2 separate regions of the Homo sapiens genome follow, and region 2 is reported to be linked to region 1. The links are microRNA targets in miRTarBase. Many come from high-throughput screens and were not tested one by one. Region 1 holds a microRNA gene; the other region holds the end of a gene's coding sequence.
The links. The annotated mature microRNA hsa-miR-7107-3p reads UGGUCUGUUCAUUCUCUCUUUUUGGCC and lies in region 1 at 2,112-2,138, shown strand. An mRNA with a match to its seed (bases 2 to 7 or 8) in the 3' UTR can be bound and repressed. Matches are read on the target gene's strand: a 7mer-m8 pairs with bases 2 to 8, a 7mer-A1 pairs with bases 2 to 7 and ends in A, and an 8mer does both.

Region 2: miRTarBase lists ETF1 as a target of hsa-miR-7107-3p. Seed matches in the 3' UTR shown: 7mer-m8 at 2,605-2,611.

What each region holds. Positions count from the first base shown.
Region 1 is chr12:121,442,417-121,446,416 of GRCh38, reverse strand. MIR7107 (microRNA 7107) reads left to right here and starts at 2,065; the gene lies at 2,065-2,144. It overlaps KDM2B (lysine demethylase 2B), which reads left to right. Exons shown (of 23, transcript NM_032590.5): 14 at 999-1,142; 15 at 1,881-1,967; 16 at 2,145-2,405; 17 at 2,624-2,737; 18 at 3,387-3,425; 19 at 3,581-4,000.
Region 2 is chr5:138,504,865-138,509,379 of GRCh38, reverse strand. ETF1 (eukaryotic translation termination factor 1) reads left to right here. Exons shown (of 11, transcript NM_004730.4): 10 at 564-711; 11 at 993-3,285. The coding sequence ends at 1,075. Among named protein-coding and RNA genes, the nearest start is that of ETF1, 36 kb to the left of the region's middle.

The DNA of each region.
Region 1 (4,000 bases):
GAAACTGGTGATCTTTTTTTTGACGGAGTCTCGCTCTGTCGCCCAGGCTGGAGTGCAGTGGCATGGTCTCGGCTCACTGCAACCTCTGTCTTCCGGGTTCACGCCATTCTCCTGCCTCAGTCTCCCGAGTAGCTGGGACTACAGGCGCCCGCCACCACGCCCGGCTAATTTCTTTTTGTATTTTTAGTAGAGACGGGGTTTCACCGTGGTAGCCGGGATGGTCTCGATCTCCTGACCTTGTGATCCGCCCGCCTTGGCCTCCCAAAGTGCTGGGATTACAGGCGTGAGCCACCGCGCCCGGCCTGGTGATCTTTTTAATAAGCGTATGGCATGAGTCACCCCATGGCTGCTGGTGAGCTGGGGGCCTTGCCTTGCCTGGTGCTGAGGGGCCAGGAGTTTCACCCGCCAGTACAAATATCAATACTGTGCAAAAGGCAAATAACGTCTGTTATTCTGAAGACAGTTCTGACCTCCTAACCTTTCTGTAAAGGTCTTGGGAGCCCGCAGTCCATGGTCTGTGCCTTGAATACCCACTGGTGAGATGCAGCTTCATCTCATCCGCATGGATCTGGGCTGCGCTCACGCCCCTGCTCCTTTGGGGCTTTTCTGAATGTGAGGCCTTCCCTGACCTCCATATTTAAAATCAGCCCCCCTTCTGCCCCTCACTCCAGCCCTCTAATTTTTCCCCATGTCTCTGTCTCTAACATGCTCTGTCCATTTTGTCTGCCTCCCTCCACTAAAATGTAAGCTCTGGATGGCAGAGATTTTGAGCTGTCTTGTTCCTTGCTGTATCCCCAGCAATTAAGAGTAGTATCTGGCATGTGGAGGTAGTAGCCTGATACGTATTTCAATGAATGAGTGAGCGAATGTGCCTGGGCCACTTTCCGGGGGTCTCCTGGCAGGCCCAAGGGGAGCAGCTCATTGCCCTTGAACTGGCCCCCCTGGGGGTCCGTGCTCCCCACCCCTGATGACTTGTCTTGTTCTCCCTGGCTCCTCAGCCAGTGCTGCCCCACACCGCCGTGTGCCTTGTGTGTGGCGAGGCGGGGAAGGAAGACACGGTGGAAGAGGAGGAAGGCAAGTTTAACCTCATGCTCATGGAGTGCTCCATCTGCAATGAAATCATCCACCCTGGATGCCTTAAGGTGAGTGGCCCAGTGGGGACAGGTGGTGCTGACGCTCTGGGGCAGGTAGGGTTGCTGGAGATGCTGGTGAGATGGTGGGATGCAGGTCGTGCAGTGAATTCCTGGAGGACCCCTGAGTCTGGGTGATCCTGTGTGTCAAGGGATAAGCCCGGGGCAAGGAGGGCCTGGAGTACCTCAGAGACCCAGTGTCATCAAAGGAATAAACACACCCCCACCTCCCAGGATGTCAGAACCAGAGAGGGTTTCCAGAGCCTCAGCAGATGGCAAACACAGGCTGCTTGTTTGTAGCTGGGCCAGAGGAAGCGCCTCCAGGTGGCTCCAGGCTTCTGGGAGAACAAGGCCCCACACCACACTCCTTCCCCCAGCACCCAGTAGAGTCCTCTGCAGAGTCCTTTCTGCATGCCAGGCGCTGAGCTCATGGCTTTACCTGGGTCATACCCCCCCAGTGAGATGGGCACACTAACTTTTATGGCCGAGGGCACCAGCCCACAGAGACGGAGTGTCTTGCCCAGGGTCCCAGAGAAGCAAAGGGGCTCAGCCTCTGAACCCTGGCCTGGATCCACAGCTGCCCGTCTCTGCCAGCCTCTGCAGCTGTGTTTTCTTTTGCCTGGAAACGGGATAGATGTGACGTTGGGGAGGGGGTGCTGCTGCTTCTGGAAGACGTGGCGTCACAGAGCCTTGTGCCCGTGGGCCATCTTCTCCGCCCGTCCCTCTTCTGAGTCCTGGTGTTCCCCGCAGATTAAGGAGTCAGAGGGTGTGGTCAACGACGAGCTTCCAAACTGCTGGGAGTGTCCGAAGTGTAACCACGCCGGCAAGACCGGGAAAGTGAGTGCCGGGCTCCAAGTCCCAGGGTCAGTCGGGAGAGGGGCGGGCCTGGGCCTGGCCGGGACCAGCCTGTCCCAGGAGTTTCAGGCAGGTGGGTTGCCGTCGGCCTGGGGAGGAGGAAGGGCAAGTCCAAAGGTATACAGTTGGTCTGTTCATTCTCTCTTTTTGGCCTACAAGCAAAAGCGTGGCCCTGGCTTTAAGTACGCCTCCAACCTGCCCGGCTCCCTGCTCAAGGAGCAGAAGATGAACCGGGACAACAAGGAAGGGCAGGAACCTGCCAAGCGGAGGAGTGAGTGTGAGGAGGCGCCCCGGCGCAGGTCGGATGAGCACTCGAAGAAGGTGCCGCCGGACGGCCTTCTGCGCAGAAAGTCTGACGACGTGCACCTGAGGAAGAAGCGGAAATACGAGAAGCCCCAGGAGCTGAGTGGACGCAAGCGGGTACGGACCAGGAGGGGCTGGGAGGCAAAGGGGTTGGTCTGGCTGGTCCCGGGTGCTGGGTTGGAGGGATGGGGCAGGGGGTGGGCAGCAGGTAGAGCTTGGGATAATCCCGGCCTCTTGCTGCCCTGAGCAGGTCACCTAAGTCCTGAGAGCCCTGCCCCAAAGAAAGGAGGGGAAAACCAGCGAGTCACTCCTCTTCCCACTCCACCCCCCTTTAGGCCTCATCGCTTCAAACGTCCCCCGGTTCCTCCTCTCACCTCTCGCCGAGGCCCCCTCTAGGCAGCAGCCTCAGCCCCTGGTGGAGATCCAGTCTCACTTACTTCCAGCAGCAGGTGCTCCCACGACGCACGCCCTCCTGAGGCCCCGGGGACTGGCGAGTCCTGGGCTGTCCCCCACCCCACCCCGCTGGTCCTCCACCCCACTGCTGCCTCTCCTGAGGCTTCCCAGGTCTCGGCCCCAGATCTCTGGCTCGTGGTTCTGGCTTGGGGCCTGGGAAGCTGTCTGTGCCTAGAGCCTCTGTTGGTTGGGATGGAAGCTGTGAGTCCAGGGAACCTCTGAGGAGCCTGGTGGCCCTGCTCCACCCACGGGCCGTGCTGTCACCAGCCACAAGGTGGCGCCAGGAGTCTCTCCCAGCTCTAGCCATTCCTGCTGGGCCGGGGATTCCCACAGGGCTGTGCTCCAGAACTGGCTCCCAGAGCCGAGGATGATTTGAATGGGCGGCTGCACATCTCCAGGTCTGTGGGGTGGGAGGTCAGTTGGGTGGGAACAGTTCAACTGTACTCCTACTTCCAGCTTCTTCCTTGAAAGCTGCAGGCAGGGCTCGCCCGTCTGTCGGTCAGACGTGGAGATGGCATTTGTGGGGAAGGCCTCCCTCCAGCCCCTCCTCTGGAGACTGTGGACTCGTGGTGGGGTGGGGTGTCGAGGAGACCAAATCCCACGAGCCCGGGGAGCAAGCTCTGCGTCCTTTCTTTTTCGTGACAGCTCAAACCTGGCAAAGAAGATAAGCTTTTCAGGAAAAAGGTACCATCTTCCCCTCCCTCCTGTGCCCCAGGCCTGAGCGGTTAGAGCTGCACCGCAGCTCCCTGGGCCACAGTCCCGTGGCAGGGGGGCGGGAGGCCTTGGGCGGGCGCAGCCCTGAGCCCCAGAGGCTGACGCGTCTCCGCTCTCGCCCTCAGCGGCGGTCCTGGAAGAACGCCGAGGACCGCATGGCGCTGGCCAACAAGCCCCTCCGGCGCTTCAAGCAGGAACCCGAGGACGAACTGCCCGAGGCGCCCCCCAAGACCAGGGAGAGCGACCACTCCCGCTCCAGCTCCCCCACCGCGGGACCCAGCACCGAAGGGGCCGAGGGCCCGGAGGAGAAGAAGAAGGTGAAGATGCGCCGGAAGCGGCGGCTTCCCAACAAGGAGCTGAGCAGGGAGCTGAGCAAGGAGCTCAACCACGAGATCCAGAGGACGGAGAACAGCCTGGCCAACGAGAACCAGCAGCCCATCAAGTCGGAGCCTGAGAGCGAGGGCGAGGAGCCCAAGCGGCCCCCGGGCATCTGCGAGCGTCCCCACCGCTTCAGCAAGGGGCTCAACGGCACCCCCCGGGAGCTG
Region 2 (4,515 bases), not on the chromosome of region 1:
AATTTACATAATGCCTCTCCTGCACTGTGAAACCTGTGCTGCTTTCTTCACTTGATCAGCTCTTCCACTGCAGTGGCTTCTCTGGTTTGCTCTAAGTGCATCACAACAGTTGAAAGTATGACCCTCCCGTATGAGATAGGTTTAAATGATAGCTTCCTCAAATTCTGGTTTGGAGAGCTTTGTTCTCTACGAGGCCACTCCCAAAAGCAGTCCTGGAATGTCTCTTCTGAGCCATTGAATGGGTGCTGCTTAGAGACACTACAACAGCCTGACTTCTAGAGTCAACAGTAGGAATCATAAGCTGAATACCCACTGAGTTTTTGTGTTGGTATTTCATAGCTGAGGGTAGAGCCTGAGGAGAAGTGTTGTTTGAAATAATCCGAATTTCTCTGCTGATATCCATTAGGTTATCAAAACCAGAGATGACTTACAGAGCTTTACACACAGACATGCCTATAAATGGGAGGATGAGAGTGATAGGTGGGCAAGGGGCTGTGAGAGGGACTAATTAGCCTTCATATATCCTAATCCCCCATTTTTGTATCTCATGGTCATCCCTGTAGACCGGACAGGAACATGAGCTTATCGAGAGCATGCCCCTGTTGGAATGGTTTGCTAACAACTATAAAAAATTTGGAGCTACGTTGGAAATTGTCACAGATAAATCACAAGAAGGGTCTCAGTTTGTGAAAGGATTTGGTGGAATTGGAGGTGAGTAGCAAATCAGCAAACCAAACTTAAAACCAGGGTCTCAGGTCAAGGTCCCTCCTGGCTAGCCCTAGCCCTGCTTCCGGTGAGGTGCTTATTATCTGCTGGGATAGGTGATTGACGCAGCAGGTGCAGGTTCCTAATTTGGACCCATGTTTATTATTACCTCTTTGCTTTCTGCAATTCTGCAAGAGAATAGGGCTTCCCTTATTCCCTTACCAGCCACCTACACACATGCCCATCCCATGAACACAGGTAATTTACCTTTTGGTTTGTTTCCCCAGGTATCTTGCGGTACCGAGTAGATTTCCAGGGAATGGAATACCAAGGAGGAGACGATGAATTTTTTGACCTTGATGACTACTAGGTAGTCGACATGGGTCCGGCAAAACGTGCCTCACCCTCCAGCATCCAACCCAAGGAGCATACCCATGGTGGAATCCAAACAGATCCCTGCCTTACAATTGGAACATTTCCAGAACTTAATCCATGAGCATTGGATATTGAAAAGAAAACCGAAACAAAACCAGACCCAGCCCTACACTTTGGTTTGTCATGGTGTCAGCGCAGCAGCCTACAACTAAGTTCCTAAACGCCACTTTGGACTAATTTAAAAAAGAATCCCAGTTTTTACTTTTACTGGATGGTGAAATTGGTTGCTCTTGTATTTTATGAAAAAAAATGATTTTTTTAACCTTCATACATAGAAGCAAAAATACTTTAACTGCTGTAAACCTTCAAAAGTTAATAGAAGTGAGATCATACTGGTTTGTTTCTTATTTTGATTGGAGAAAAATTAAATTGCTGCATTTCGCAGTGACCCATTTACATGGCATTCTCAGCTTAGACTGCGTAAGAAGAAATATATGTGGTGAAATGTTGGAACCATTTCTCTCTTGGTCTCTGTTTAATGTTGAAAGGGTGAGCTAATAGGAGGCACTTTCAACTTCACTCCCTCACGCTACCCCGTCCCCCTCCAGACTGGCAGTTTCAAGGATGCAAATTGCATTGCAAAATCAAACTGACTCATGAAGCATTTGGGCCAGTGCACTGTTTACTTCCATCTGTTTGCAGACACATTTGTGCCCGGCGTTTGGGAGCCCTTTGTATCAATGTTCTGACAAGGGTCCCTATAACCTTAACCTACTCGAAACCGGTTTGGGATGGATATGATGGGGCTTCTGTGCTATTGCTGGGATTGGGAGAAATAAAACATGCAATTTAAGTGGAAGCGAAGAAATTTAAAGAGGATTTTATTTTGCTTGGGTCAATCCTTGTTAAAAGGGAGGTGGATGTGTTTTCCTTGTGTTGGATGGCATGAGATTATGTGAATGTTTTGATTTATTAAAATGAACTGCAAGGTTTTTCACAGGAACGACAGACATGTATGACTGCATGTAATTATAAACTCCTGACCTCCTGGTGGGGTTGGAGCATCTGTTTCAAATGTGGGACTTACAAGCACTTCTCACATGAGAAATTAGGGGCGGGTGGGAAGGGATGGGACACAGCTTCTGGCACCATGGATTTAAGACCATGTTGGATCCAAAAGTTGGCCTGAAACCCTGAAGCTTATGCTTCACAGCTGGGCTGTAAGTCAGACTTGAACCCAGCTGATATGCAAGGTCATGGCGTGCCCAGGGTGGTGACAGTTGAACAAAGTGTATAGTACGTGCCCAGTGGTAGCGATGGAAAAAAGTATACCAAATGGACTTTGAAGGACCAAAGGTTTTAAAAGTCAATTGGTATCACCTCCACACTGACTAGGGTAGTGGGGTGCATTTGGTTTTCAAATTGGGTACTTTTAACACTTTAGTGCCTGACTGCTGTTCTTTACTGACTTGATTCAGTCACTCGTAGCTTTATTGGTCTGAACCAGCTCCTTGTTCCCAGGTTACAGACCTGCCTATCGTTCCAATAATCCTGTTTCACTTGAATGAAGGGAGTATGTCTTAAATGTAAAGTTTCTGGTTCTCACACTGTACTCTGAGGTCCAAATACTGTCTGTCAATGTGTAACCTGATGTCTCAACCCCCTGTGAGAAGAGTCCATTATTTGGTGTTCACCAACGTGGGAGACTTCACCGGAACAGGCTTTTTTGCTTTGGGCTCTGCTATTTGTTTGCAGAACACCCAAGAGCGAGCAAACATGCTCTCTTCACAGCAGTACCTTAGGGTTTTGCCATTGTAAATGGGTCTGATGTGATATGACAAGACCAGAGAAATTGGATGTAAATTTACATTTTTGAATATGCTTGTTGTTTCACATGATACATTTAGGGTATGCAGCTCCTTTTGTAGTTTTTATTTTTACTATTTAAGTTTGGAAATGATGCCAAATTTTTGTATTTCTTTAATCAATGTGTTCTCTTCGGTGATATATATTGCATTATATATTGATGTGTGTATCAATATATATTGATATGTATTACACTTACACATACAAACACATATAAGAGGGGGTGAAAACCGTAGCCTTTGCATTCTCTATAGCCTCTGCAGAGAGATACTAAGCAGCAAAATCTTGGTGTTGTGATGTACAGAAATGGAGAAGAGTATTAAACCATATTTAAGAATATACTTTGTGTGCTTGAGATTTTTTAGGACTGGTCTAGAAAGGCCTGAACTGTGGAGACAGTTCTCCAAGGCATACCTCAGATTAGTCACGGCCAATAGCATTTCAGCCTTGGGTTTGAGTTGTGTTTACTACATTTGTCTATGGAAAGGTATATGCAAAGTTTTTCTGAGGTCATGATCCCAGAGTTATGCTAGAAGAAGAAGGTTCAGGTTGCTGGGGCCAAACTAATTTGTATTCTCCCCCATTCTATATGCATGCCAAAGGGAATCTTGCTTTTTTTTTTTTTTAAGGTATGTTAAGTATATTATCCCATAACCCAGCATCCCATGGAGGTAGATGGTGTACCCAATTTTACAGGTGATGAAACAGAACAAAAGAAGGTTAAGTAGCAGCTCTTTAGTGATAACACCAAAATTTTATCCCAGGCCTTATTCCAAAGTTCTCTCTGTATCTGTCTTTGAGTCCTATAATAGAATGGTCCAGATGGAATAGCAGAAACTAGGCCTGGGCCCTCTCTCTCTCCCACGCTCCTTCATCTTACATACCTTACACTGGGTAGGAGAGTAGTAGCCCACCCAAAAGCAGGTCAGGGGCTGGTCCAGAGGAGCAGGGCTCCTAGGCCAGGTTCAGAGCAGAAGAGGATTTGTTTTCTTTGTTTTCCCCCAAGGTTGAGGTGCTTAAAGAGCCTCTTTGGTAGTTTAGGAAGCCTAGTTGAGGAGCCAAGGTGGTGCATGGTTTGCTTTCTCCAGGTTTGAGAAAACTGTTTTAAGTAAAATTGACCAGTAATGGCACTTGGCGTACTTTTCACCCATTTTCTTACCTGATCTAGGTGATAGCTCTGACGACGAAACTCAATTACCAGCTGGGAAGGGGCGAACATGCCTGTGCTGGTGGAAGTGTAATTTTCCCTCCTAATGCGTGTCTAGGTGCTGTTCTTGAAGACAAAATTGTTGGAAGGCAGCACAGTGGTGCAGGATATATGGGCTGTGGTCCTTGCCTGTCTGGGCCTGCAGCACTTGCCATCTTTTGTTCTCTGGCTCCAAGACGCATGCCATGACACTCCCAGACAGGCACGGTGGATTTAGGGCTGAGAGCCAAGGTGGAATTTAAGTTTCATGCCAGCTTCTCCTTTGTTGCCAGCTTGAGTGAATGCCAGGGGATTCCTGCCTGCCAAGTCCAGCCCTGATGGGACTGGGTCTCAGGGGACCTAGGAACTGAACAGCCAAGTGG